Homo sapiens: one gene and its partner. The protein of the gene in region 1 purifies or fractionates together with the protein of each later gene. This does not show direct contact. Each region holds a gene or a part of one and is shown on either strand. Other genes may lie near its edges.

What was found.
Region 2: the proteins of STYK1 (region 1) and GRAMD1A purify together in Homo sapiens (affinity purification with mass spectrometry; 2 studies listed by BioGRID and IntAct, with this or other methods). This does not show direct contact.

Annotation. Positions count from the first base shown.
Region 1 is NC_000012.12:10,665,617-10,682,179, forward strand, and holds the start of STYK1 (tyrosine-protein kinase STYK1), read right to left. Parts: upstream 8,437-16,563; 5' UTR 8,350-8,436; exon of another isoform or gene 7,900-8,349; intron 1,840-7,899; exon of another isoform or gene 1,673-1,839; intron 1-1,672. UniProt on the Homo sapiens protein: Probable tyrosine protein-kinase, which has strong transforming capabilities on a variety of cell lines. When overexpressed, it can also induce tumor cell invasion as well as metastasis in distant organs.
Region 2 is NC_000019.10:34,995,140-35,008,459, reverse strand, and holds the start of GRAMD1A (protein Aster-A), read right to left. Parts: upstream 8,138-13,320; 5' UTR 7,982-8,137; coding exon 7,974-7,981; intron 7,327-7,973; exon of another isoform or gene 7,216-7,326; intron 3,129-7,215; exon of another isoform or gene 2,910-3,128; intron 2,776-2,909; exon of another isoform or gene 2,552-2,775; coding exon of another isoform or gene 2,529-2,551; intron 1-2,528. UniProt on the Homo sapiens protein: Cholesterol transporter that mediates non-vesicular transport of cholesterol from the plasma membrane (PM) to the endoplasmic reticulum (ER).

The DNA of each region.
Region 1 (16,563 bases):
GTGCATACACTGTCACAGTTTCTTCTGGAACTTTGGGATGCACATGTGTCCAGACTAGCCTCTGCCAATCTCTACCAGATACATGAAGGCTACAATATTTATATCCCAGCTGTGTTTTCATTGATGGAGCTTTAAGAATATTCTAATTAATACTCTGCTTCTTTTTTCTTCCTCAGCCAGAACTCACTCTGACTTATACTAAGATATCAGCCCCAAGGTAAGTTAAAGGAGCCAGGCCTTGAGCCCTGTGAGGAAAGACCACAGAAGTAGGAGTCAGGGAAGCCATGTGGTTTCACATCAGATGGGCTGGATTTGTGGAATCTGCGAATAAGTCTTATAGAATAAATCTCACCACAGGGAAGTCAGGATCAATTTTCAGCATTCCGTTTGCCTCTCTCCTCCTTCCTTAAGCCAAACCTGTTAATTCTACCACTAAACAAGTCCTTTCTTGCTGTTATAGCTTCTTACTGGCCAGAAGTGGTACTAAATTTGGGCCCAGGCTGAAGAGGTGTCAAAGAGCATGTAGGTGAGGGTCAACCAGGAGCTTTTCCTGTCTAAGTGAAGCCAGCCTGATCTGACTTAACAGAGACTTTGGAGAAGTTGATTTTAAGCCTTTTTTCACTGACACAAACTAGGGGTGACTTGACATACAATTGGTCCTGATAGCTGACTATTGTCAGAAAAAATAAGCACTTGAGATCAACTTCTCTAAACACCAAATTAGCACCTTTGGCAAATATTTTTCACCACTTATTTGGTAGCATAATATGAATATAACATAATACTGTCTCCTAAAGTTGTCCAACACAAACCCTGCATTCATCTCCCACAACACAGTACATCTGGTTAAATCATTCAATGTCTGAGTGTACAACTAAAACCAATCATTTCAAGGCTTTTTCCAGAAAGGCACCTGACTTCATATGTGGATATTACATGTTGATATGATTTGGCTCTGTGTTCCCACCCAGATCTCATCTCAAATTGTAATCCCCGTAATCCCCCCATGTCGAGGGAGGGACCGGGTGGGAGGTGATTGGATCATGGGGGCGGTTTCCACCATGCTGTTCTCGTGATAGGAATAAGTTCTCACGAGATCTGATGGTTTTATAAGGGGCTCTTCCCCCTTTGCTTCCTTCACATGCTTTCTCTCACCTCCACCATGTAAGACGTGCCTGCTTCCTCTTCTGCCATGGTTATAAGTTTCTTGAGGAAACTTATAAGGCAGAGGAACTATAAGTCAATTAAACCTCTTTTCCTTATAAATTACCCAGTCTTGGGCAGTTCTTTATAGCAGTGTGAGAAAGGACTAGTACACATGTGTATTACTGAGATTTTTCTATAACCACAATGCATAGTTTGAAACATGTTTTTTCCCTTAAACCTTTGGCATTTACTACTGTGTCTTACTAGAATTCTAACTTAGCCTAGAATTATATACATAATTTTAATTTAGATCAATATTCTAAAAATACCATATTCCTATATACTGTTATCTAACAATTTTTAAAAATACCCTTAAATGTATAAAGATGGAGCTAGTTATTGAGGTTATAAAGGTTAACAGCTACAGAGGAAAAAACTAAAACAGGTTTCCTTTTCATTTTTTATTTTAGCCAGTAATTTAAAGCATAAAAATATAAATTTGGGGTCATAAAAGTTAAAACACTACCTTCGATTTGCTCTGACCATGTCAATTGTTAAGAATTAGCTGTCAGCTGACCTCCGTGGCTGACTTCTGTAATCCCAGCACTTTGGAAGATGAAGGCATGAGGATCACTTGAGGCCAGGAGTTCCAGGCCAGCCTGGTTAGCCAGGGTCTTCAGCAAGACCCTGTCTCTTAAAAAAAAAAAAAATACAAAAATTAGCTGGACGTGGTGGTGCATGCCTCTAGTCCCAGCTACTGGGGAGGTTGAGATGGGAGGATCACTTGAGCCTGAGAGGTCAAGGCTGCAGCAAGCTGTGATCATCCCACTGTACTCCAGCCTGAGCAACAGAGTAAGACTCCATCTCAAAAAACAAAACAAAACAAATTAACTGTTGATATTCCTTGTTGTCACTATGCCAAGAAGGGTTATTATGAATGAGAAATATGAGAAAACTGATTGAGATGGCTTTCAGGGAAGCACATAATGCTCAGAAGCTTGGATACGACTTAGACTGCTGGGGGCTAAGGAAAGAGTGAGCATCAGGAAATGTTTATGTTTCCTGAAGACTCACCCTTAGGAGGTAGTATTCACAATATGATAGGGCTGAACTCTAACTGCCCAATTCAGCAGAAGGTATAGGGAAGAAAAGCTAGTGAAGAAGGACACCTGGGCTGAGGAGGTGAGAACAACTGCAGGAAATGAGGCTTTAAGCCAACGGATGGATAGAAACCCCTTACTCCATCCCCATTATCCTTTCTGTATCCAGAGGTGACTGTCTCTTCTAAACTCTAAACTATCTTATTATTATTCTGGTTAGAAATCTCAAAGAAATTCTGAGAAGTTCAACAATAAAATACTTTTTTTTTTAACCTGGAAGAATCTCCAGCAATTTCCCAGTCAAACTCTACCCTCCATTTTTCAAAAGGAATAAAAATAATAATAAAACAACTAAGGACCCCTGAGGTAGGTGCCTTGCTGTTTGCTCACAAAGAGAGAACCAGAGCTTAAAACGGATTTCAGGTCCCCCGGACTGAGAGAGGACTCTGTCCACTCTACACTGTCTGTCTGTGTAATTTGCTGCTGCTGCTGCTGCTGTTTTTTCTTCTACTTCTTCTTCTTTTTTTTTTTAGACAGAGTTTCACTCTTGTTGCCTAGGCTGGAGTGCAGTGGTACGATCTTGGCTCACTGCAACCTCCGCCTCCCAGGTTCAAGCTAATCTCCTGCCTCAGCCTCCCGAGTAGCTGGGATTATAGGCACCTGTCACCACACCTGGCTTTTTTTTTTTTTTTTTTTTTTTTTTTGTATATTTACTAGAGATGGGGTTTCACCATGTTGGCAAAGCTGCTCTCGAACTCCTGACCTCAGGTGATCCGCCCGCCTCAGCCTCCCAAAGTGTTGGGATTACAGGTGTGAGCCACTGCACCCAGCCGTAATTAGCTTCTTTACCTTTGTGCACATTCGTTCCCTTCTACTTTCACTTTCTCCAGTTAGACACTATGCCAAGACATGATATCTAATACCCAACCTACTTATTCAGTACTTAACCAGTTTGCCTATTATTATCTGTTTCTTCCCAACAAGACTTTAATTTCCTGGAGAGCACAGTCAGCTTCTTTAGGTCCCTCATTAGCCCAGCCCAGAAGTAGGCACAGAACAGTAGCCACATCTAAATTCAGAAAGCATGTTGGAGAACTAGAGACTGGCTGAGCCTGGGCTGGTGGGGAGGACAAAAATGAACTGGCAAAGGAAGAAGAAAAAGCATGAAACCTTCATGGGAATAAAAGTTTAGGGACCAGCTATTTTGTTCATTGCTGTATCCCTAGCACCAAGAGCAGTGTCTGGCATATATCAGAATTCATATGATTGTTGAATAAATAAGTAGCTAATTCATCTATGAAAATAGCATTGGATCTGCAAGAAATTTTTATAGAAAAATAACCTATAGAAACTAATGGGGCATAAAGGATTAAGCTATAATACTAAAAGTACAAGGGGGAATGGGGAGTAGTTTTTAACAGTATATATAGCAAGTACATGGTACCCAGGTTTCTGTTCGATAGGGACACATTTTTTGTTCCATCATTAAGCAGGTTGTTTTTCTTCAGAAAAAAGATTTAAAGTTCTTTGCTTTCTATACACAGCAGGCAAAACATTGAGCCTTCAGAATAAAAATAGATAATATACTCAATAAAGAACACCATGTACAAAAATCAACTCAAAATGGATTAAAGACTTAAATGTAAGATCTGACACTGTGAAAGTACTAGAAGAGAACACAGAGAAAAGGTCCATCATATTAGGCTAGGCAATGTTTTTTTGGACATAAACCCAAAAGCACAGGCAACAAAAGCAAAAATAGACAAATGGGGTTACATCAAACTAAAAAATTTCTGCACAACCAAGGAAAAAATCAACAGAGTGAAGAGATAACCCATGGAATGGTAGAAATATCTGAGAAGTGATTAATATCCGGTAAGTGATTAATATCCAAAATACATAGGGAACTAAAACAATAGGGGGAAAACAAATAACTGTACTAAAAATGAACAAAGGACCTGAATAGACATTTCTCAAAAGAAGACACACAAATGACCAACACATATGTGAAAAAATATTCAACATCACTGATCATCAGGGAAAATGCAAGTTAAAACCAAAATGAGCTATTACCTCATACCTGTTAGAATAGCTATTATCGAAAAGATGAAAAATAAGTGTTGGAGAGGATATAGAGAAAGGGGAATGCTTGCACACTGTTGGTGGGAATGTAAATTAGTACAACCGTTAGGGAAACAGTATGAAAGTTCCTCAAAAAATTAAAAGTAAACTACTATATGATCCAGCAATCCCACTATTCGGTATACATCCAATAGTGATCTGACTTTTGTATATAATGTTCTTTATTCAGTATATTATCTTACTTTTATTCTGAAGGCTCAATGTTTTGCCTTCTGTGTATAGATAGCAAGAAAATGAAATCAGTGTGTCTGATTTCACATACTGCTGTCTGCACGCCATGTTTATTGCAGCATTGTTCACAATATCCAAGAGATGGAATCAATGTAAATGTCCATCAATGGATAAATGAATAAAGTATAAATACATACAGTATAAACACAATGAACTATTATTCAGCCTTTTGAAAAATGGAAATTGACAACATGGATGAACCCAGGAGATATTATGTTAAGTGAAATAAGCTAGGCACGAAAAGAAAAATATCATAGGAACTCACTTATATGTAGAATCTGAAAAAGTTGAACTCATAAAAGTAGAGAATAGAAAGATGGTTACCAGAGGTTGGGGGAATTCGAGGGGTTAGAAAGACGTCAAAGGATATGAAAGGGTATGACCTTATTCCTCCTTGTTAGGAGGAATAAGGTCAAGAGATCTATTGTACAACATGGTGGCTACAGTTAATAACTATGTATTGTATTCTTGAAAATTGCTAAGACAGTAGATGTTAAGTGTTCTCATCACAAAAATATGTGAAATAATACTATGTTAATTAGCTTAATTTAACTATTCCACAATATATACATATTTCAAAACAACATGTATATGATAAATATATATATAATTTTTAATTTTTTTAATTAAACATAAATTTTAAATATACATATAATAAAAATAAAGAATACCCAGTTGGGAAAGCTCAGGTACAGTAGGCAGAATAATGGCTTCCCAAAGATGTCCATGTCCTAATCTCCAGAACCTATGAATATATTGATTTTTTTTTTTTTTTTTTTTTTGACAGTCTGGCTCTGTCGCCCAGGCTGGAGTGCAGTGGCGCGACCTCAGCTCACTGCAAGCTCCGCCTCCTGGATTCACGCCATTCTCCTGCCTCAGCCTCTGATTAGCTGGGACTACAGGCGCCCGCCACCACGCCCAGCTAATTTTTTGTATTTTTAGTAGAGATGGGGTTTCACTTTGTTAGCCAGGATGGTCTCGATCTCCTGACCTCGTGATCCGCCCACCTCAGCCTCCCAAAGTGCTGGGATTAACAGGCGTGAGCCACCACGCCTGGCCATGTTGATTTTTAATAGCGTTGAAATAGCGAAGGGGAATTAAGGTTACAGATGGAATGAATCAACTGACCTTAAAATAGAAAGATTACCCTGGAATACTCAGTGAGTCCAGTGCAATTACAAGAATCCTTAAGTGTGAGAAAGGCAAAAGTGAGCGTCAGCATAAGACATGAGAAACACTTTACCGGCCATTCCTGGCTTTGAAGATGGAGGAAGGGTCCATGAGCCAAGGACTGTAGCAGCCTCTAGAGACTGAAGGAGGCAAGGAAATTGATTCTCCCTTAGAGCCTCCAAAAAGAACCATCCATTTGGAAACCTGCCCATCCATTTTTACTTCTGACCCCCAGAACTGTAAGATAAAACTTTATGTTGTTTAAAGCCACCACCATTGTGGTAATTTGTTACAGTGGCAACAGGAAATGTACACACTCAGGTTAAAAGAAAACAGAGCTGCAGAATCACATAACTCCTGGCAGATCTTCGGAGCACATGTTGGTTGGGACTGGTTGTGAGGGTTTGGGACAGGTGGGAAATAGTTTCTGCCAGAGAAAACTGAAATACATGCAATGCTCAACTAACTTGTGCATAATTAAAGACATTAGTTGTTAAAGGGTTGAACTGTACACCCTCTCAAAATTAATATGCTGACATTCTAACCCCCAGTAACTCATAATGTAACTTTATTGGGAGATGATAGTGCAGAGATAATCAATTAAAATGAGGTAATTAGGATGGACCCTAATCCAATAAGACTAGTGTCCTTATAAAAAGGGGAAATTCAGAGACATATATACAGGGAGAACACCATATAAACATCAAGACAGCCATCTACAAGCCAAAGAAAGAGGCCTGGAATAGATGCAGGCTTCATAACATGTTAGTTTTGGATAGCCAGCCTACTGAACTGTGAGAAAATCATTTCGTTGTTTAAGCCAGAGGTCACCAACACCCGGGGCGCCGACAGGTACGGGGTGCACAGCAGGAAATCAGAGGCAGGTGAGCCAGCAAAGCTTCATCTGCATTTACAGCCACTCCCCATCGCTGTCATTGCCTCCTGAGCTCCTCCTCCTGTCAGATAAGCCACGACATTAGATTTTCTTTCTTTTTCTTCCTCTTGTATTTTTGGTAGAGATGGGTTTCGCCAAGTTGCCCAGGCTGGTCTCAAACTCCTGAACTCAGGGCGATCCACCCACCAACTCCTCCTAAAGTGGTGTGATTACAGGTGTGAGCCACCGTGCCCACTAGCATTAGATTGTCATAGGAGCGTGAACCCTATTGTGAACTGCTCATGTGAGGGATATAGGTTGCGAACTCCTTATGAGACTCTAATGCCTGATGACGTAAGGTGGAACAGTTTCATTCTGAAACCATCTCCCGCCAACCTCATCGGCATCTGTGAAAAAAATTGTCTTCCACAAAATCAGTCCCTGGTGCCTGGTGCCAAAAGCCATGCAGTTTGTGGTACCTTGTTACAGCAGCCCTAGCAAACTCACACAGTAATGGAGGCACTGAACGAAAAAGTATATGATTTTCATTGAAGCAAATACTTCATGATGTCTCATTGAAAGACCTAGCTGCCCCCTAGCTAGCTGTCAGTGGAGATTCCGGTGCATTGAGGGGGAAAAACCAGGTAGACAGCACAGAGTTCTGTTTCCAGGTGTATTTCAGTTGAGCTGTGCTGCACATTACAGTAACTCGACTCCTTTATTGCCACTACTTCCCACCGAGTGGGAAGGAAGTGTGGTCTCATAGGTATAAGAAACTCCAATGTGGAGAGGACCCATTACAGAAGGAAGCAACAATCGCATAAATGAAAGAAAGAAAGGGGGGATGAAGGGTTGATAGAGAAAAATGAAAGAGGAAAAAAGACATTGAAAAGAAAACAGAGGCTAAAATGGTGAAACCCCGTCTCTACTAAAAATACAAAAAAATAAATAGCCGGCCGTGGTGGTGGGAGCCTGTAATCCCAGCTACTTGGGAGGCTGAGGCAGGAGAATCGCTTGAACCTGGGAGGCGGAGGTTGCAGTGAACCGAGATCGCGCCATTGCACTCCAGCCTGAGTGACAGAGCAAGACTCCCTCCCCCACTCCCCACCCCAAATAAAAAGAAGGAAAGAAAACAGAGATTCAGTCAACAAGGGATAGCACATCAGGCTGTACACTTTTAAAGCATGGTTATTGATATCTCATTTAAATATCGCAACAACCCTGGAAAGTAATTACCGTATTTATGCTTTGCAGATGAGGAAGCCGAAGCTGAAAGCAACGATTCCATGGTCTGAAAGGCTATGCAGTCCTCTGACAAGTAATTCCTGTAACCTCATTCTTTCCCTTCCCCCTCTCCTGATGGCCCCCTCTCCAGGAATAAACAGAGGTCCCCCATTCCTGGGTTTTCTCATGTTTCTCTCTGCACCAAATCTGCTGAGTCAGGTTTACTCCCTTATCATATAGAAACACAGAAGCCAAACCCCACAAGATGCTGGTTCCGAAGAAACACAGGTTAATTCACTTGGTGATTTCTGTTTGTTCACATAAACACCCGTTCCGCTCCCAGCCTCTTCCCTTTTTCTCCCTCCCCAACTGCAAAGTCCTCCCCCAGCTGCCTCGCTGCCATTCCCTTCCCACCTTCTTTACCCTCCCCGCCGCGCCCGCCCCCCATACCCCGTTCACTACCGTGTCCCTCCTCTGGTCACTCCGGTTTCCGATGGCACCGGCCCAGTCGGAGGGGAAATAATGACAGGGTTGGGTAGGGCAAGGTGTGCCAGCCTCAAGGAAATGCTTTTCAGTCCCTCCTTCCCACTGCGGGGCGTGGCTGCCGGCAAAGGATGGAGTTCGGGCGGGCTCCCGCGAAGGGAAGTCTGCGGGCTCCGAGGTTTCCGGGACTCGCCACACTCGAGCCACAGGAAACCTCTGCTGCAACTGTAAAGGCTGGACTTGTTGCTGATCTATACTCATTTCCTACTCTAGTGATTGCTAGATGTCAGGTATCACGGTGACTCCAGTCCAGGTGAAAACGGAGTCACGATACAGGGCAACAGCGCCACCTCACGGCCGGCCCCGTAGCAGCGGCCTCCATTGGCGCCTAAAAATGGTCAGGATTCACATTCAGGTGGATTATTCCGCGCCAGGAACATTCTCCACCTGAAGGCTTTGCCGGGGTGTTACAAGATAATACTGAAGGGACGGGAGTGGTGGCTTACGCCTGTAATCCCAGAACTTTGAGAGGCCAAGGCGGGTGGATCACCTGAGGTCAGCAGTTCGAGACCAGCCTGGCCAACGTGGCGAAACCCCGTCTCTACTAAAAATACAAAAATTAGGCGTGATGGCGGGCGCCTATAATCCCAGCTACTCAGGAGGCTGAAGCAGGAGAATCTCTTGAACCCAGGAGGCAGAGATCGCATAGAGCCGAGATTGTGCCACTGCATTGCAGCTTGGGCGACAGAGCAAGACTCCGTCTCAGAAAAAAAAAAAAAAAAAAGAAAAAAAAAAGTACTGACCACTGCGGAGACGTGGGGGAACCTATAAGGAATTAATGAGAATTAAAACCCCAAGATTACGTAATAGATCATTCATTTAGAGCCCGCGCGCGCGCGCGCGCGCACACACACACACACACACACACACACACATATATCCCATTATGTCCTGGGTTCTCCTCTGGGGAAACAGTGAACAAGGTAGTTATGTTACCCGTCCACATGGAAACTAAAATAATAGAAAATACTTAAGACAATAGATAGCTGAAGGAATTCTGTTAGATATTAACACCTAATACAAATTCAATTAAAGAAATAAGAGTCATAGGTAACTTGAATATGTGACCAATTTATTCAGCATTGAACGCATACCAAACACAAACTGACAGTCATTAGAGCAAAAAGAACTTGAGTCAATGTAATGTGGCATATTTAGAGATTGAGGTATGTCAGTTCTCTAGAGCTTTCTCTATTGGCATTTTCACTTCCTTCAGGGCTTTTTAAAAACAGGATGAATTGTACTTAATGCCACTGAACTGTTCATTTTTAAATGGCTAATGGTTGATTTTATGTTATGTGAATTTTACCTCAAAAGGGGAAAGGAAGACATCTCATCAGTTAGTTGTTCTTTAGATTCTTTATGTCATAAGTGATACATCAAATCCAAATGAACTGATTGGAACTTCATATTATGTAATTTTCTACTCTACCTCCCCAAGCATGCTCCTCCATGACAGATAAAGTGGTTTACTCATTTTTAAAATTTCTGCAATGTATTGCTAGATACTCATTCTGATGCACAGAATTTTGTCTAAAATCTAGTTACTATTATAGAAATAGAAGTTAAAAAAGAAACCAAAATACAATCCAGAAAGGGGAGGCAAAATTTTTCTCTCCAATTTTTTTGAGCAAATCACATAAATTATACATTAAAAACATTTTGAGTTAGAGAAAACACTGGAAATGATAATGCCCACACACAGAAACAACTAAGTACCAAATAGTCTGAGTTACACAGCAGACATTCACCAGGAGTTATATATGTATAGCTAGTCCCACACATTATACTCATTAATAAGATGGTTAGAATATCCATTATTTCTCTTTTTTCTTCAAGTTTTCATTCCCTTGTAATTTCAATTATTACCTCCATCTCAAATTTATAAGCCTCCAACTCATTGTCAACAATGCTTTGGCCCCAGTGTTTCTACCAGATCGTTATTTCTGCCTCATTATTAATTCCATAGGAATTTGTTGAATGCCCATTATCTCTCTGTCCAGATTAAGTACTGAACGGTAGTGGGAAGTCACACTGAAATATACACTGGAGATCTCTTCCTTCTCCAGTTTAGCCTACATGAATCCTAACTGCCAGATCCTGCGCTCCTCTAAACTGTTAAAGCCATCCATCCATGTGTTACTTAGTATATTCCCTCTTGTATGATTCTGCAGTTGTGAGGAAGGAATCTACTGGTTTAGTGGGGTGGAATCTATTTACGGAAGGCATGGAGGAATTCCTGGAAAGTCACTCATTATAAGAAAAAAGAAAATCAAAGCACAAAGGTATTTTCCACTAACAAGAATAGCTTGGGGTTCAGCGCTGGGTCTGCATCTCAATGTCCTTTGGCCAAGCCCGTATGCAATAACAGAGTCCTAGTGAGAGGGGACTCTCAAGTACAACTGGTAGAGTTATTTCACAGAAAAATACAACAGCAACAACAAAACCGTATGAGACCTTGTGTACACAAGGTAGCTTTGCTTTGGAACTGTTTTCAAGGGAATATAACACAAAAGCGGGGCAGGTGAATTCTTCCAACTTTATCTGGAAATGCAGTTCAACTTTCACAAAAGGGCAAGCAGTGGCTACCAGTAGGAGATAGCTCCACATGGGCCTGAGGCTTACCTGAAAGGCTTGCACTGGCACAGAGGATCAGAGTCACTCTGATGAAAATTATAAACAAAGTCAGCAGTAGAGTCACTGCTGCAGCAATGCCTGGCATGTAAATGGAGTTCCCAGGCATTTAGAGAACAATAGACATCACCAGAAGAAATCTAAGACAAGGAAAAGAGTGGATTCTATGTAGCCGCTAGGGTTTGGGATTGTGAAAATTTATGAGGTCCTCTACTATCTTGAGGATCTTCAGGGACAGTTGGGGAAAAGATCTTTTAAGAAACAACAGAGGTTCTGCAACCAACTAAAGGCGGCGACAGAGTATGGGAAATTACTATTCATATGACCTCATGTTTAACCCTGGTTGGTATACCCTAGAGAATATTGATCATTGGTAAGCTTCCATGTATATGTTGTTTCTTTTTACCTTATATATTAGTTTTCCATTGCTAACATAACACATTACCACACACTTAGTGGTCTAAACAACATAAATGTTTTATTTTACAGTTCTGTAAGTCAGAAGTCAACAAAATTCTATGTGGATTAAAATCAAGGTATTAGCAGGCCTGTATTCTTTTCTAGAGGTTCCTGGGAAGAATTTGTTTTCTTGCCTTTCCCAGCTTATAAAGGTCTCCCATATTCTTTGGTTGATAGCCTTTTTGATCCCCCCGTCTTCAGAGCCAACAGTGGCTGGTTGAGTCCTCTCACATCAGGTGTGTGTTTCTGTGACCCTTCTGTCATTGCTGTGTGTCCTGCTCTCTCTGACCACAGATCGGAAAGTTTCTCCACCTTTAAGGACTCACATGATGAGTAGATTGGGCCCACAGGATAATCTTCTTCTGTGAAGCTCCATTCACGTCTACAATGTCACTGTCGCCATTAAAGGTAGCATAATTGTTACCGGTGGAGGGTGTCCAGGTTCTTGGCGTTTTGAACCAAGAATTGGATGGACAAAAGGCACAAACAAGCAATGAAAGAAAATCACAGATTTATTAAAATAAAAGTACACTCCACAGACTGAGCAGGTTCGAGCAAGTGGCTCAAGAGCCTGGTTACAGAATTTTCTGGGGTTCAAATACTCTCTAGAGGTTTCCTGTTTGTTACTTGGTTTAAACCCTATGTAAATAAAGTAGTGGCCAGCAACCAGTCTGACTGGTGGTGCAAAATGACCAATTGGAGGCTGAAGTGAAGTTACAAATTTACACATGAAGACTTGGCCTGCAACCAGTCTGATTGGTTGCAGGAGGAGACCAATTGGAGGTCCTTTCATTTTTCATCTGCAACGGCAGAAAAGGGTGGAGGGGGGAGTTGCAAAGGAAGTAGCCTCTGATCGTTTTGTTACTTGGATGTGGAGAGGTGGGGTTTTCCTTTTGATTCAGTTCTAGGAAGTCAGAGCCAATCGGTCTTAGGTTTCCTGCCTTCAGACCCTGTTCTCCTGCCTCATAATCACAGGTTCTGAGGATTAGGGTGTGGACATATTTGGGGGCCATTATTCTGCCTACCACATATTGCTTGGAAGAGCTTGCGGTGTAAGGTCCATGTCTTACACCTCTTTGTAGTCTCTGTTTCCTGTAAATACTAAAAGATCAATAAATAAATAAAATAAAATAAAATAAAATAAAATAAAAAATAAATTTTAAAAAATGTTGTTGACCATAAAAACATATACCACTTGCCAACTACTTTTATTCTCCTCAAGAACATTCGTTCTCCCTATGGATTAAAAAAATGTGATAATTAAGGATATTATGTCAACCATTTGGGGCCACTCATTTTTTTCTTCTCGTTTTCCTTCTTTCCTCAGGATTCTCAAAGAATCATTCAGTTTAGCATGACTGTTAGCGATCACTGACCTACAGCTAGATTCCAGAGCTTGCATCAGCTTGAGCAAGTTGACCTTTCTGGGCCTCAGTTTTCTCGCTTGTAAAATGAAAAGGTTAGACTACATTAGCCTCAGGTTCTTGTCAGGGTTCATACTCTATGATCCTCTCATCATTGAATGCAAAATCTCATCTCCCCCTAACTCCCTCCTGCTAGAGCTATTGCACACTGTGGAACATCTCTAGCAGGTAGACATCCAGCTTTGTCTACAGTTCTTCAGTGCTGAGGACCGGCCAACAAGCAGCTTATTCCATTCATAACGCCTGGTTATCAGAAAGTTTGTTCTCACACTTAACCTCTCTAACCCTCAATTTGTTTACGTGTAAAATGAAACAAAAAAGGCCCAACTCAGAGAGTTGTTGAAAGTTCAAATAAAAAAAAATACTTGAAAAATATTTCTTGAAAATCAAAAGCAGTACATAAGTGTTAATTGCCATATTATTACCTAATATTGCTAATAATAAATTAGGTTTCTATTAATCTATACTTATGCAACCTATAGTGGATTGTACATCTATCTTTTAAACACTTTATCTTGTTCATCTCAGTCCCCTTCAGGTAAAACATTAAAAATAATTCTGAATCAAAATTCTGACATTATCCCTTTCTAGCTATATTACTGAGATATCTTCAACTATATACTTGATTTTTTTAAAAAAGCACCCTTTTTATATTATTTCTACCTACTTCATTGATAAAGGTAAAAAGAACAGAGTTTTTACAATACCACTAAATAATTATCTAAAGGTTGGTACTAATTATTCAATAAGCAGTCTTTAAATATGATTTTCCAAATAGCTACTGCCCTCCCTAATGGACTATAAGCTTCAAGTTAAGAATACTGTATCCACTGGGCTGCTCAAATCAGGAAGCTGGGAAATGCCACATGGATGCTCTTCAATCTTTTTGCCTCCATTTCACATAATCAAATATCAATAACAGTCATACCTTCTAAATCTCTCTTTATCTTGTCTCTTTTCTCTCTTCTGTTATCTGAATTCACCCCTCTTCTTTTCCTGCCTGAATTTCTGTAAGATTCTTCCAACTGGCCTTCACTCCTCAGTATCACCTTCTAATTTTTCGTTTTATTGCCAGCATATTTTTTCCAATGAGTATGTCTTACCATGCAATACCTATCCCCATTTAAAATCTTTACAAAATAAAATTTCTTAATGAAGATTTCTTACACCACTACAAAATAAAATTTCTTGATGGTGAATCTCCCTTAACCCTCACCTTATCTATACTTCCTAATATCCACCAATCATACTACATATTCATTTTTCCCACAAAAACCAAAGAAACAAGTACTAAATCCTCTCAACTGACAAGCATTTGCACAGTCTGTTCCCTATGCTTGTAATGCCCTTCCCCTCCTAACTTACCTAATAATTCCTCCTAGTTCTTTAGGATGCAGCTCACCTCTGAGAAGTAAATGGTCCCTCAACTTTACTCTGAATCCTCTCCTATGCAGACTATCCTTCTTTCTTCTCGGTACCAGAGCGTTTCTCATTTGTAGTTTCCTTGTCTGTTTCTTCTAATAGGCTATATTCTCCCTAAGGACAGAGACCCCAATTTGTCAGTATTTATAGACCCTTGCAAAGTGCCAGGGCGTGTTTGTCAAACATGGGAAGATCAGAAAAAGTGATGGTCTTACAATGAAGTCTCAAACTACTTTCAGATTTATCATTTTGTTAGAGCTCTATAAAACCTTAGTGAGGCAGAGAGGACAGCTATTGTAAAAAAACATGTAATTTTTATTGAGATTCAGTGATTGTGTCTCATCTGTAGTCACACAGAAAGTCAGCTGCAAAGTCAATATTTGCCAAATTAAATGCTTTATTAAATACATATTTGTACCCAAATACATAAAAATTGCTAGTAAAATCAACTTAAAAAATATAACCATATGCTAAAGCCTCTAAGAGGTAATTAAGAAATGTATTGAGATCAGGAAGCCCAAATCTCATCAAGGATTCGTTTTCTTCATAATAATGCCGTGGTCTGAATAGAGTCCAGAAAAAAAAAAAAAAAACCCAGAGCGAAATTTGTTACATATTCAACATTACCAAGCAGAAATATGCTTTTATCACATGATGTGAACACTTTGTGTAGCATAAGGTTGCTATTACTACATAAGGCAAGATCCCCAGTATTTCCTTCCCTAGGTCTCCCCAAGGACACTGTGTCTCCTTGGCTTCCCAATATCTTTCAAAAACTCTAAACATATTCCCGGAGCAATGCACTTGTGATTTATTGTTCCTAGAACACTCTGGATTTCTCCTCAGCTACCCACCACCATCACTTCCTTCAGGTATCTGATCAAATGTAATCTTATCAGTAAGGCCTTTCCTGACCACCCAACCCCACTCCATCTTGGCACATATAGTCATCCTTGCCATTATTTTCCCTTCAGTGCTTACCATCGCCAAACATACTATACAATTACTTCTTTATTTATCGTCTTTCTTCCTTAACTTTGTAAAGACAGGGTCTTGTTTGGTCCACAGAAGTATCTCCAAAACCTAAAACAGTATCTGGTACATGATAGCCCCTTAATAAATGTTTATTAAATGGATGAGTGAATGAGTCAATGATCCATGGGATATATTTCCTTTTGGGTTAAGTAAGAGGTGTAGTTGCACGTTTTGGAAGCAAATTATTTGACTCTTTTTGTAGATGCATTTCACCTTATAGCTACTTGTATTTCTTAGAAGTAAATTTGTTACAAAATATCAGAACCAAATTTATGACCCACTCTATTATGTATAGGATTCATGGCTAACATATTGTGCTCTACCTCAGTTTTAACTTCAACCTATTTGCGCTTTACTTCATTATCTTACCAATTTACTTATTTTATCTTTTGGTGTCATATATATGTATATATATTATATATATAATAAAAACTTCAGATGCTTTACTATATGTAGTATATAGTAAATATTGTATATATTAAATATAAATATAGCATACAGTAAATATATAGTATATAGTATAGTAAATATAGTCTATAGTATATACTATATATAGTATACTATATTATAAATGCTATAGTAAATTTAATTATATATACTATGTAAATACAGTAAATATATTTACCATATATACTGTAATAAATTTCAGTATACTATGTATAAAGTATATATAGTATATCGTATACTATATAGAGTAAAGCATCTTAAGTTGTTCTAGAATAGGAAGGAGAAAAATTCAATAAACCCAAGAAGTTTTTTAAAGTTATTAAAATGTCATTTCTTATAAATGATTTTTGCAAACATAGTATTAAACAATCCTTGGGGAACTAAAAATTAGTAAAGTTTATGAACGGGCAAAGCTAAAGACAGATCTCATTTTCATCAAGCTGTGCCCCTACGAAGTGCAGCATGAAGAGGCAGTTAGTCTTTTCGTGGGTTCTTCCTTTTGCCTTGCACTGACAATGTAGCATGAAGAGAAAAGCATGGATATTGTAATCAGAAAGACCATGGTTGAAACCTAAATCCACCTCCAAACAGTTCATGCTTTGGAACTGTGGCAGAGACTGTGGTAGGTTCTGCCCACCTCACCTATTTCTTCCCTCTAGGTGCACCTTCCCAGCACCCTTTCATCTGGATAGGACCATGTAACTAGCTCTTG
Region 2 (13,320 bases), on another chromosome or scaffold:
CCTCAGCCTCCCAAAATGCTGGGATTACAGGCATGAACCACCGTGCCCAGCCCATGTAAAGTAATTCTAACAGAGCATGGCACATAGCGAGCTCTCAAAGACACCTGCTGTTTTATTTTATTTTATTTTAAGACGGAATCTCTCACTCTGTCACCTAGGCTGGAGTGCAGTGGTGTGATCTCAGCTCACTGTAACCTTCGCCTCCTGGGTTCAAGAGATTCTCCTGCTTCAACCTCCTGAGTAGCTGGGATTACAGGATCACACTACCATGCCTGGCTAATTTTTGTATTTTTAGTAGAGACGGGGGTTCACTATGTTGGCCAGGCTGGTCTTGAACTCCTGACCTCAAGTGATCTGCCCACCTCAGCCTCCCAAAATGCTGGGATTACAGGTGTGAGCCACCGCGCCTGGCCTATACCTCCTATTTTTAAAATTAACTTACTGATTCATACAACAAATATTTATTGAACAGCGACTTTCCACTCAGTTGTCGGAGCTAAAACCCTAAGCATCTTTCTTAATTTCTTTATTTTCTTCATCTCTCATTTCAAAATCTATTTCCATTATTTATTTTTATTTTCTTTTTAGAGATAGGGTCTCGCTCTGTCACTCAGGCTGGAGTGCAGTGGCACAATCACGGCTCACTGCAGCCTCGAGCTCCCGGGCTTAAGTGATCCTCCTGCCTCAGCCTCCCGGGTAGCTGGGACTGCAGGTACACACCACTGTTATCAGCTTTTTTATTTTTAAAAAATTTTTGTACAGATGGGGTCTAGCTATGTTGCCCAGGCTGTTCTCAAACTCCTGACCTCAAGTGATCCTCCCACCTTGGGCACTACCAAAGTGCTGGTATTACAGGTGTGAGCCACTGCACCCAGCTCTATTTCTATTATTTTTATTTTTTTGAGATGGGGTCTCTCTCTGTCGCCCAGGCTGCAGTGCAATGGCATGATCTCGACTCACTGCAACCTCCACCTCCCAGGTTCAAGCGATTCTTCCGCCCCAGCCTCCCCAGTAGCTGGGATCATAGGCACCCGCCATCATGCCCCGCTAATTTTTGCATTTTTTGTAGAGACAGGGTTTCACCATGTTGGCCAGGCTGGTCTTGAACTCCTTCCTGACCTCAGGTTATCCGCCCACCTCGGCCTCCCAAAATTCTGGGATTACAGGCGTGAGCCACCGCACCCAGCATCCGTTATTTTTATTATACCCATTTCTCCCTGCTCCAGCCTCCATCACCTCCAGCCTGGACACCCCAGCAGCCTCTTCACTGGTGTCCTACAACCAGAGGAGACCTGTGACCATCTGAGTCAGGTCTGAGCCCTGCCCTGGGTGCACCTCACTCCAGGTAAAAGCAAAGACCTCACCTTGGTGTGGTGATTTGGCCCTGGAACCTCACTGACCTCATGTCCTCCCTCTCCCTGTCCTTCCTCTCCCCTGGCCATCCCAGCCTGCTTTTGTCCCTAAGCTCTCCAATCTCATTCCCACGCCAAGGCCTCCACATTTGTAGTCCCTCCGCCTGAATGTCCTTCCATGGCCCCGGCATCACCAGCTCTGTCCCCTTCAGCTCAAATGCTCTCCTTCCGCATCATCCAGCCTAAGGCAGGCACCTCTGTCGCCACACCCCAGGCTATCTGGAGTGTCCTGCTTGTTTACTGTTTGTTTACTGTCTACCCAGACTGTGACCTTCAGGTCTTGGTTACCACCGGGTCCCTAGAGCCCAAAACTCTAGGCACATAGTGAATGCTCAATAACCACCAGAGGCTAAATGAATAATCTGCACGCTGGCTGGAGCTGGCATCAGTAGAGCCCGCAGGACATGGCCCCTGCCCTTGGGGAATGAGCCTTCTGGTGGGGAGGCAGACACTGAACAAACAGGACACTCCCAACTTCACTGTGCAAACACGAACTGTAATAAGGACTGTGGGGATGGCGTTGGGAACTTTAAAAGGACATTCTTTGTTGACTCCTTATCAGGAAATATGTCAAGCTCTCCGTATGATTAACCGTATTATTTCTCAAGCCGGTGCCTTTGATATGATTCACCATCCCTGCTTTACAGAGGAGGAAACTAGCTCAAAGCGGCAAACCACTTGCCATAGGATACGGGCCTGGTTTCTTTCTTTTTTCTTTATTTTTTGGAGACAAAGAGTCGCGCTGTCACCCAGGCTGGAGTGCAGTGGCACTATCTCAGCTCAGTGCAACCTGCGCCTCCCAGGTTCAAGTGATTCTCCTGCCTCAGCCTCCGCAGTAGCTGGGATTACAGGCACCCACCACCATGCCCAGCTAATTTTTTGTATTTTAGTAGAGACAGGGTTCCACCACGTTGCTGGTCTCGAACTCCTGAGCTCAGGCAATCCACCTGCCTCAGCATCCCAAAGTGCTAGGAGATTACAGCTGTGAGCCACTGCACCTGGCCATGGGCTTGGTTTATTTCAAGGCAGGATTCCCATTTAGGGGCCTTGATGTATTCTGGGGTGCAGGTGGGATTCCCTCCACCACCTGGGGCAACTCAAAGTTGTCTCTCTTACCTCCAAGCCTTAACATATGCCATTCTGTCTGTCCAGATCGTAGTTCTTCTTTGCCTAGCAAATCCTTATTTGTCCTTCAGGACTTTGGCTCATGCGTGACCCCACAGTCCCCTGGGCAGCTCCCATCCTGGACTACTCTGGGCCGTCACTGTCTGATGACAGGTCCAAGTCCTTCACGGGTCTGTGGGTCACTGCTCTGTCCCCAGCACAATGCGGGACAGGATGCAGGGTAGGCACTCATGTAACACTTGTAAAATAAATTTGTGGAATAAAATACGTGAATAAAATAATTAAACAGCCAGTGGCCCAGGCCACTGCTTTTCCCCTGGGCCATCCCAGCAGCCTCCTCCCTGGTCTCCCTGTTCCCATCCCTGCCCATACCTGTAGTGGGAGGGAGCCTGGGATCATCTGAGTCCATCAGGGTCCTCCTGGGTGGTCCCTCTCTGCCCTCATCAGCCCTGCACTCCCTCTCCCAGCTCCCGCCTTGGTCGGTGCCTCTGCTCAAAATGCCCTTCCTCCCAGACATCCACATCCACATCCACAGGGCTCCCCCACCTCCCTCAGGTCTCTGCTCAGTGGACACCTTCCCTACCTCCCTATTTAACACCCCCTACCCCGCCTCCCGATCCCCCTCCCTGCTCTCTTTCTGCAAAGCAAGTCTCCCTGCTGCCTCCCGGGACCTTCAGTATTTCCCCCTAGTTCTTATCCTTCTCTCCCCACCCCCAACCCCCACCCACGATGTTGAGTGTCCCCATCACCTAGAGCAGGGCCTGGCGTACAGGAGGTGCTCCGTGAGCACATACTGTTGGGGATGGCCTGGGTGATCGGCCCTCCTTCCCCGCCCCCCATAGAACTTGGGTTCCAGCAGGTGCACGACTCCTTGGACCCTGCAGGTCTCCAGGGCAGCAGCCTGGAGTGTGGGCCCCACAGTCCAAGGACCTTCCAGTCAAGTGCCACCGCGTCCTTTCTGTGTGACCCTGAGCTAGTGTCTGAACCCTCCTGTGCCTCAGTTTCCTCTTGGGTATGATGGGAATTAGTGCCCACCTCCTAGGGTTGCACAGAGATGGAGGTGAGGTGAGATCCACAAAGCCCAGTACCTGGAGGGCACCTGGTTTAACTACGCTGCTTTCCCTCCCACAGGGACTGGCGGACTAAGATGGAGTGTACAGCGCGGCTGCCAGCCCAGTGCACCACTGCCCATGACGCTCTGCTGACCCTGACAGGGACCTCACAAGCACTACGCCTGATGTTAGGCGCCTCCATGACTGACCCTCAACTCCAGCCTTTCACCTCTAAATACCCTGCACCCGCCACAAGGAAGTGAGCAAAGCCCATACAAGCCCCTGCCTGCAAGGACCTGACGCTGAAACAGGGAAACATAGACCGTCAGTAAGAAAACAAGTGAGCAGGGATGGCGACCTCAGACACTGGTGAACGCCATAAAGCAATGCTGCTCAGTATGAGCCCCAGAGAGCAGCAGGCAGGACTTGGAAAGTGTTCAAAAGGCAGAGTCCAGGACCCACTCCCAACCTTCTGAATCAGAACTGGGGTGGGGCCAGAGATTCCGACGCACATTCAAGTTTGAGGACCACAGAGATAAGGGATGGGACAACTAGGGGGGCAGAGATGCTTTTTAAATTTTTTTTAGAGACACGGTCACACTCTGTCACCCAGGCTGCAGTACAGTGGCAAAATCATGGTTAACGGCAGCTCCGAACTCCTGGGCTCAAGGAATTCTCAATCCTCAGCCTCCCAGGTCACTCCAGGCCCGAACTCTTGGGCTCAAGCGATCCTCCAGCCTTAGCTTCCCTGATAGCTGGGACTACAGTCTCACACCACCATGCCTAGCTGATTTTTAAAGTTTTTTTGTAGTGATGGGGTCTTGCTATGTTGCCCAGGCTGGTCTCAAACTCCTGACCTCAAGTGATCCTCCCACCTTGGCCTCCCAAAGTGCTGGGATTACAGGCATGAGCCACTGTGCCCAACCAATTTCTTTAGTAACAGTCAGCAAAAGCCTTCCTGAACAAAGCCCACTTGTTCACCTGAGGACAAAGAACACATGTGGCAAAGGCTGGGAGAAGACTCCAGGTGGAGAACATCAAGCTCAGGGACAGGACTGAGCCTGGCAGGTCTGAGTGTGAGTGAGGTGGCCAGTGGGGCTGAGGGAGTAGCGGAGGTGCACAGGCCTGGTGACCCTAGTCAGGAGTTTGGCTTCACCCAGACAGCACTGGTGAGCAGGGAGAGACTCCTAAGCAGCAGGACCACATCCTCCCCTGCCTGCTTTTCTCAGCCCTCTAGCCTGAAACACAGACCTGCCCTACTTTCCCGCAGCCACAGATCTAGGGGCAGGGCCTGGGGGCCGGAATCCTGAAGAGAGGCTCAAGGCACACAGACAGGGCAGGGACCACGCCCCCAGTTTTTGCTCCAGGGCTGGGCAAAGAGGAAGTACTCAAGGGCGGACCCTGCGGCTGCCCAACCAGGATAGCTGAAGGCAGAGTGAAGGGAGGAGCCTGGGGGACTGTTATAGGGGCGAGGAGACTCGGAAGGGATGTTGTTTTGCTTCCGCAGACACCTGACCTCCAACTTCCTAGGCCCCAGTGGACCCAGAGCAGCCTCTGGTCAGAAAAGGGCGGATGCATCCACAGGTGTGCATAAAAGGGAAACTCAATGATTGTCACACAGTAGGTGTCAGGGGTAAACTGCATTTCCCTACAATTGCAAGGAGTCTCTTTCCTCTCTCTCTCTCTCATATGCACACACACACACACACACACACACACACACACACGCACAGAGCAACAGCATCATAGGTATGCTACAGAGAGCCACAGAGTAATTACACACACACACACACACACACACACACACACCTGCAGCATTGCTAGTCTGCTACAGTCACATGGCAATTTCCCAGAAAAGTTATCCAGACACATGCATGTGTGCACACAGACACAGAGCTGCAGAGGGTCACAGAAACATACAGCAACCCACAGAAAGTCCCGGATAAATTATATTCACACACATAGCCACGAGGAAGTCTCAGCAAAGAGCCAAAGACAGCCATACAGTGAAAGACCAGTCCCAAAAGACCCCAGGTGACACATACATAGTCCCAGGTAAATCAGGTCCCACGGTCAGCCAACACATCCCCACTGAGTTGTTCCCGTGCCCGCACTGGGCTCACCATCTGGCAGGGAAGACAGAGAAAAGGCTACTTCTAAAGTGGCAAGGGGCTGGGCGCAGTGGCTGATGCCTGTAATCCCAGCACTTTGGGAGGCCGAGGCGGGTGGATCACCTGAGGTTAGGAGTTTGAGACCAGCCTGGCCAACATGGTGAAACCCCATCTCTACTAAAAATACAAAAATTAGCCAGGTGTGGTGGCACGCACCTGTAATCCCAGCTACTAGGGAGGCTGAGGCAGAAGAATCGCTTGAACCCAGGAGGCAGAGGTTGCAGTGAGCCGAGATCGTGCCACTGCAGTCCAGCCTGGGCGACAGAGCGAGACTGCGTCTAAAAGAAAGAGAAAAAGGAAAAGAAAAAGTAAAGTGGCAAGGGGTGGAGGTGTCAGTGGCTGTAGCTGGTGGAGAGCCCTGATGCTCACAGTCAAGCAGGACTTGGGAATAATGCAGCCGAGCAGGGCGTGGATCTCGAGGACACAGTGGCCAGGTAGTGGAATAATGCGTGGCACATGCTATACTAACTGTAACAGGTGGACAACGTCAGTTATCATTATTGCCTCCAAAGTGCCCTGGGTACTCCCAGGGTCTTAGAAGGGAGGGTTCCAAGCCTACAGAGAGCCACAAGGGGTCTCACACTGTTCACACACACACAAAACCACAGAGGGTCTCAGCTGTACACAGAGAGGCCTAGGCACCACTCAATACTGTCACAAAGGAATACACAAGGGAATGTTCACACAAAGATGGAATCAAATTAAGTTACAGCCACACTCACAGAGCCCCAGACACACAACAATGTCACAAATGTAACTTACATTGGCACACAGAGCTAAATGAGAGTTTCAAGCCAGGCGCGATGGCTTAAGCCTGTAATCCCAGCACTTTGGGAGGCCGAGGTGGGTGGATCACCTGAGGTCAGGAGTTCGAGATCAGCCTGGCCAACATGGTGAAACCCCATCTCTACTAAAAATACAAAACTTAGCCAGGCGTGGTGGCACACGCCTGTAATCCCAGCTACTCAGGAGGCTGAGGCAGGAGAATTGCTTGAACCCAGCAGGAGGAGGTTGCAGTGGGCCGAGATCGTGCCACTGCACTCTAGCCTGGGCGACAGAGCCAGACTCTATTTCAAAAGAAAAAAAAAAAAAGAAGAGCGTTTCAGAGCTAAATTACAGGCATATGCAGGCACAGAGGGTCATGGTAGAACCCAGAGCCCCAGGCACACTTGTACACACACCACTAAGTCACAATGGGACGCACACTGGTAACTTACAGCAACGCTTGGAGCTACAGATAGAATTAATGGTAAAACACACACAGCCCAAGAAGGATCAGAGCTGCTACACACGGTAACTCCAGACACATGTACAAACACTCCAACGTCACACTCAGACACACAGGGGTAATTTATATTTGCACAGGGAGCTACAGATGGAATGAGACACAACACGCACACAACCAGCTGCTCACAGCCACAGATTTGGAGCCCCAGACACACACAGGTAACTTACAGTGACACACAGAGCCGCGGTCAGAATTAGTGGTTAAGTTACACGCAGGAACTCTATCAGAGGCCCAAAGCTGCTGCAGGCTAGCAGCCCCAGACACACGTACACACACTTGCAAGACAATTCACAGTCGGAAGCACATGCGCCCACCTGGACCGGAAGGGGAGTAAGAAGTCAATTCCGAGCACACAGGACCCCCCGCCCTCCATGACCTCAAGCACGCGGTCCTGGAGAGACGCAGGAAGCCCCCACCCCCGGCAGCCCCGAGACCCGCAACAGCCAAGGACGGTGGGAGGGGGCCCAGGCAGGAGGGGGCTGCCTACTCCCGGCGCGCCCAGGGCTCCGCGGCCTGTGGGCCTGGGCTGGTCCCGATCCTGTCTCCATCCCAGGCCGGAGCCCCAGTTCGGCCTCGCGCTCACCCCTGGCTTACCAGGCAGGGGGTTGCCAGGCCTGAGGGCCCTCCCCGCCAGATGAACCCGCGGGCCCCCAGCCAAACCCCGCAACCCAGTGCGTCGCGGGCCGGCAGTGGCGACCCAGACCCCGGGCCCTGCCCTGCGTCCGCGCCCCACTCCCCAGCTGCACCCCTCGCCCGGGGGCCCCCTGCCCCGCCCCCACCCCGATCGCCCCGGCCAGAGCCATGTGCAGAGGCCCCCGACCTCTGCAGCGGCCGCTCCGCCCCCTCCCCAAGCCCGCGGCGCCCCCTCCCTCCGGTGGCCTCCCCCGCGCGCCCGGTCCCTGAGCTCTAGTCGCCCGGTCCTTACTCGAACATGGATGCGGCGCGGTGGGCGCGCCCCGGGCGCAGGGCAGGGCAGGGCAGGGCAGGGCTGGGCTGCGCGGGGCTGGGCTGCGCTGGGCGTCCCCGCAGGGCACCGGCCTGGCCTTCCGCGGCCGCCGCCCCCACCCGACCCAACCGCCCGCACAAAAGGCCGGAGCCGCCGGAGGCCGCCGCGGCGTCAGCGACACCCCCTTCCTTCCCCCGCCCCGCCGCGTCACGGCGCCGCCCCCAGCCCGGGAGGGAAGGCGGGGAGGGGCCGCAGAGGCCTAGAAGGAGGGAGAAGCCGGGGAGAGAGGGACTGGACAGAGAAGGGAAAGCAGAGGGGCAGAGAGACAGAGAAGGAAACAAAGAGACTTTATTAAAACCAAACATCGTGGAGGCAGCTGCCTGCCCGCAGGTTGGGGAGCCCCCTCCCCTAGTACCTAGAAAAGGGTCCCTAGCAACTACTATGCCCCTGGCCAGAAGCTCCTGGACCTCCCAGGGAGGAACCTGAGAGCCGGGGCGAAGGTGGGGGAGGACTGGAGATGCTGGGAAACCGAGGTGTATGTATGGGGGAGGGGGCCTGAAGCTGGCGGGAAGGGGTGGGGCCGGTTGGCCGCCTCCTCCTTCCCTCTCCCAGTCTCTGAGCCCGGGTTCCTGGTCCCAGGAGGTCCGGTGCCTCCGTTTCTAGGGACTTCCCAGTTTTGGTCAGCCAGGCCAAGTACCAAGTCAGAATCCAGCCTCCCTGGCTCTTATCTGTGCTGAGACCTTGCGCTCATCACCCCAGTGCTGGGAGTCCCACTAACTCGGTGGTAAGGGCTTTTCCCGGGGACAGCGCAGGAACGGGCAAAATCAGTCCTTTTACGGAAGGAGAAGCCCGGCCTCTAAGATGGGAAGTGACTTGTTGGGGTCACCTGGTAGGTAGGCGGCAGAGTTGGATTCGATCCTGCTCTGACGCCATAACCTGCGTCCCCCCTCCCCCGCCCCGTCTGCAAGAGGTCAGAGTCAGGTGGTGTCCTGGACTCCTGGCCCAACCACACAGAAATGCGAGTCCCACCTCACAGCTCCGGGGCTGTGGCTCCCCAGCGCTCTCCAGGGTACGCTGTCCCCGCCTCTTTTGAAAAAACTCCCTTCCCAACCCTCTCCATCAACCCTTCCCCTCCTCCTGCAAAAGAAGCCCACCTGACTTCTCCATTTTGATGAATGGCAGGCCCAGAACTTCAGAGTCTTTTCTGACCCTCTCTTTTCCTTCACACCACATCCAATCCGTCACAAACTGTGGGCTCCACGTATAAAATCAATCGCTCCATTCTAAACTCTTCTTCCTCCGCTGCCCACGCCCTGGCCCAGCCTCCATCCTCTCCTGCCTGATCTCCCTGCTCCCATCCCTGCCCCTACTGTCTGTTCTCACCTGCAGCCAGAGAGAGCCTGGGACCACCTGAGTCAGTTAACTACCCTCCTGGCTCAGAGCCCTGCCCCAGCTGTACCTCACTCCAGGTAAAAGCAAAGTCCTCACCTTGGCACCCAAGGCCCCTGTCAGCTCTCTGACTTCAGCTCCTCATCTCCCCCTGGCTCACACCCCCCATCCAGCCTACCCGCTGTTCTTCTAACTCACCAGGCACCTTCCTGCCTCCTACCCCAAGACCTTTGCACTGGTTATTCCCTCTGCATGGACAGCACCCCCCCTATCGCCGTGCCCTACCTCTCATGCTAACCCCCACCTCTAAAACCCCCATCCACCATCTGACATTTGCTGCCTCCCACCGGCCAATGGAAGAGAGGCCCTCCTCCCACCACCTTCCTCTGTCCAACTGATCTCTTTAGATTTCTCTTTGGTCTGTTTCTTCTAGTGTAATGCTTTTAGTTTTTTAATTAAATAATATTTATTTCAGGTCAGGCGCGTTGGGTCACGCCTGTAATCCCAGCACTTTGGGAGGCCAAGGAGGGTGGATCACCTATCAGGAGTTCGAGACCAGCCTGGCCAACAGAGTGAAACCCCATCTCTATCAAAAATACAAAAAAATTAGCCAGGTGTAGTGGCTTGCACCTGTAATCCCAGCTACCCAGGAAGCTGAGGCAGGAGAATTGCTTGAACCCGGGAGGTGGAAGTTGCAGTGAGCCAGGATCGCACCACTGCGCTCCAGCCTGGACAACAGAGCAAGACTCCATCTCAAAAAAAAAAAAAAAAAAAAAAAGGAAGAAAATATAACAGTCCTCTATGTCCCCTGTACCTATATAGAATAGATGTGGACATTTTGCCATTTTGCTTCAGGTCCTTTTTTTAAAAGAAATAAATGATTACACTTACAACCAAAGGCCTGGCTCCCCATCCCTCCTTTCCCTTCCCGTGCCCCCCAAGGAGCCTTCTGCCTGCCATGCAGTTGGTGTGTTTCCTTCCTGCGCTTTTTTTTTTTTTTTTTTTTGAGACAAGGTCTTGCTCTGTCGCTCAGGCTGGAGTGGTGCAGTGGCTCGATCTTGGCTCACTGCAGCCTCCACCTCCTCGGTTCAAGCGATTCTCTTGCCCCAACTTCCTGAATAGCTGGGATTACAGGCATGCGCCACCATGCCTGGCTAATTTTTGTATTTTTAGTAGAGATGGGGTTTCACTGTGTTGGTCAGGATGGTCTTGAACTCCTGATCTCAGGTTAATCTGCCCGCCTCGGCCTCCCAAAGTGCTGGGATTACAGGCATGAGCCAGCACGCCTGGACCCTGTGTACTTTTCTGTCCTTTTTCTACATCAGGAGGCATCCACCAACACTATCACCTATTATCCAGTATCTTTTTAAAAAGATACACGATTAGGCTCCCTCTGTTTCATTTGCAACTTGCTGTCCCCCATTATCATTGTTTCTGCGATTTCTCCACATCCATGCACAAAGCTCTGCTTCCTAAACTTTAACGCTTATGGAGTGTCCCTTGTTGGAAGAAACCACAGTGGCTGCTTGTTCTATTCAGGGTCGGTAGAGTTCTTTCCTCTTCCCCCTATGGCCCTGAACCTCCCATTTCCTGTCTCCTTGTACCAGAGATAGTGTTTCTTTTCAGAAGTTTTGTTTAAACTTTCTTTTTTTCTTTGTTTTTCTTCTTCTTCTTTTTTTTTTTTTTTTGTTTTTTTGGCCTGTGATCTACAGCAGGAAATACCTTTCACATGGGCTTCCAGCACGCACTTAGAAATACACATAATGCCACAGAAGTTGTAAGAAACCACACTTACCCTCATTAGGCCTCACGCATGGTGTTATTTGCAATTCTATTTTATTTTGATTTGGATAAAGAAGTGCTGATTGCGGCCGGGTGCCTCATCTCACAATCCCAGCACTTTGGGAGGCCGAGGAGGGTGCATCACCTGAGCTCAGGAGTTCAAGACCAGCCTGGGCAACATGGTCAGACCTCGTCTCTACTAAAAATACAAAAAAAATAGACAGGTGTGGTGGTGCACATCTGTGGTCCCAGCTGCTGGGTGGAGGGGGGAGCAATGGAAGTTGCAGTGAGCCAAGATCATGCCACTGCACTTCAGCCTGGGTGACAGAGAGATGCTGTCTCAAAAAGAAAAAGACAAAAAACAAAAAACAAGGGCTGATTGCAATTCACTGTATTAGTTTTATGGCCCTTAAATGGGTCTTGACCTACAGTTTGAAAAACACTGGGTGGGGTCCCTCTCCACCCATCCACTCTTTTTTTTTTTTTTTTTTGAGACAGAGTCTTGCTCTGACGCCCAGGCTGGAGCAGTGGCGCAATCTCGGCTCACTGCAACCTCCGCCTACCAGGTTCAAGCAAACCGCCTGCCCCAGCCTCCTGAATAGCTTGGATTACAGGCATCCATCACCATCGCTGGCTAATTTTGTGTTTTTAGTCAAGATGGGGTTTTACCATGTTGGCCAGGCTGGTCTTGAACTGTCGACCTCAGGTGATCCACCAGCTTCGGCCTCCCAAAGTGCTGGGATTACAGGCGTGAGCCACCACGCCCGGCTTCCCCTCCACTCTTACTAGGCAGAACTCAGCTGAGCTCAGTCATAGCTGGTTGTCCCAACGCACACCCTCAGTTTTTACCTTTTGTTTGTGCATCTGTTTCGTGGCTTTGAGTCAGCCCTCTGTGGGGCTAAGGTTGTGCTCTGACCCGCAGCCACAAGGAACCCACCCTTGACAGAGAGAACCCTCCCTAGACAGAGAGACCCTCTTTCCTGTCCCACTGCCCAGGTCTGACCTGTCCTGGGACAGACTCTGCGGGTCTGGCATCCTCTGCTGCTGCCGGCGTCGGGGGGTTGGGGTGCAGGCGGGGGACTCCCCATCACTGGATGGCGTTATGTGAATGATGGGCACCTCCAGGAGCTTCCAGGACTCAGAGGCCAGGCCCTGGGCCCTGTCACCCTGTGGCTGCTGCTTCCGCTGCCCTGCTGGGAGGTCAGGCGAGCCCTGGGGACTGCCCTGTGCCAACAGGGTCTCCCAAGGCATCAGGGGCAGGACATCATCCATGGAGAGGGTCTGGAACAGCGGTGTGGTCTCTGGGAAAGAGAAAAAAGAGATGAGGGATAGAGCTCCCGCTTAAGCCCCCTTACCACCTTCCCCCGTGGCTCCACTAAGAGAAATGAGCTATGATTAAGAGCACAGTTGGGGACCAGGCGCAGTGGCTCATGCTTGTAATCCCAGCTCTCTGGGAGGCTGAGGCAGAAGGATCACTTGAAGCCAGGAGTTTGAGACCAGTCTGGGCAGCATAGCAAGACCTTATCTCTACAAAAAGTTAAAAATTAGCTAGGCATGGTGGCACGTCCCTATAGCCCTGGCTACTCGGGAGGCTGAGGCGGTAGGATCACATGAGAATCCCGGAATTTGAGGCTGCAGTGAGCTATGATTGTGCCATTGCACTCCAGCCTGGGCAACAGAGCGAGACCCTGTCTCAGAAAAAAAAAAAAAAAAAAAAAAAAAACCCGTGATCTGAGAGTCAGAGAGATCTGGGTGGGATTACCACCCCTGCTAACCTCATTCCCTTATGACCCCAAGCCTGTTTCCTCTTTTGGAGACTCGAGATCTGATAGGACCCTGCAGGGTGGCCAGGCAGTATCTGGAGGGCTCTGGCATGCATGGGGCTAGGCCAGGGCCCCAACACAGTAAGTGCTCAGTTAATCCCATTTGCCTGTAGCTGGAACTGAGGTTTACCGAACCACATAGCTCCTCTCTCATCTGTGGGAGGCCTGGGCTATTTTTTTCGGAAAGCCCTGGGTGTTCTCTGTACCCACTCCTGCCCTGTGTCCCTTCCACACAAAGGGTCAGGAAGGAGCCAGGCCTCAGTGGGCACCAGAGCCCGGGCCTGGGTAACGGCTAGCCGGACAGACAGAGAGGCCGAATCGGGATTCCCCTT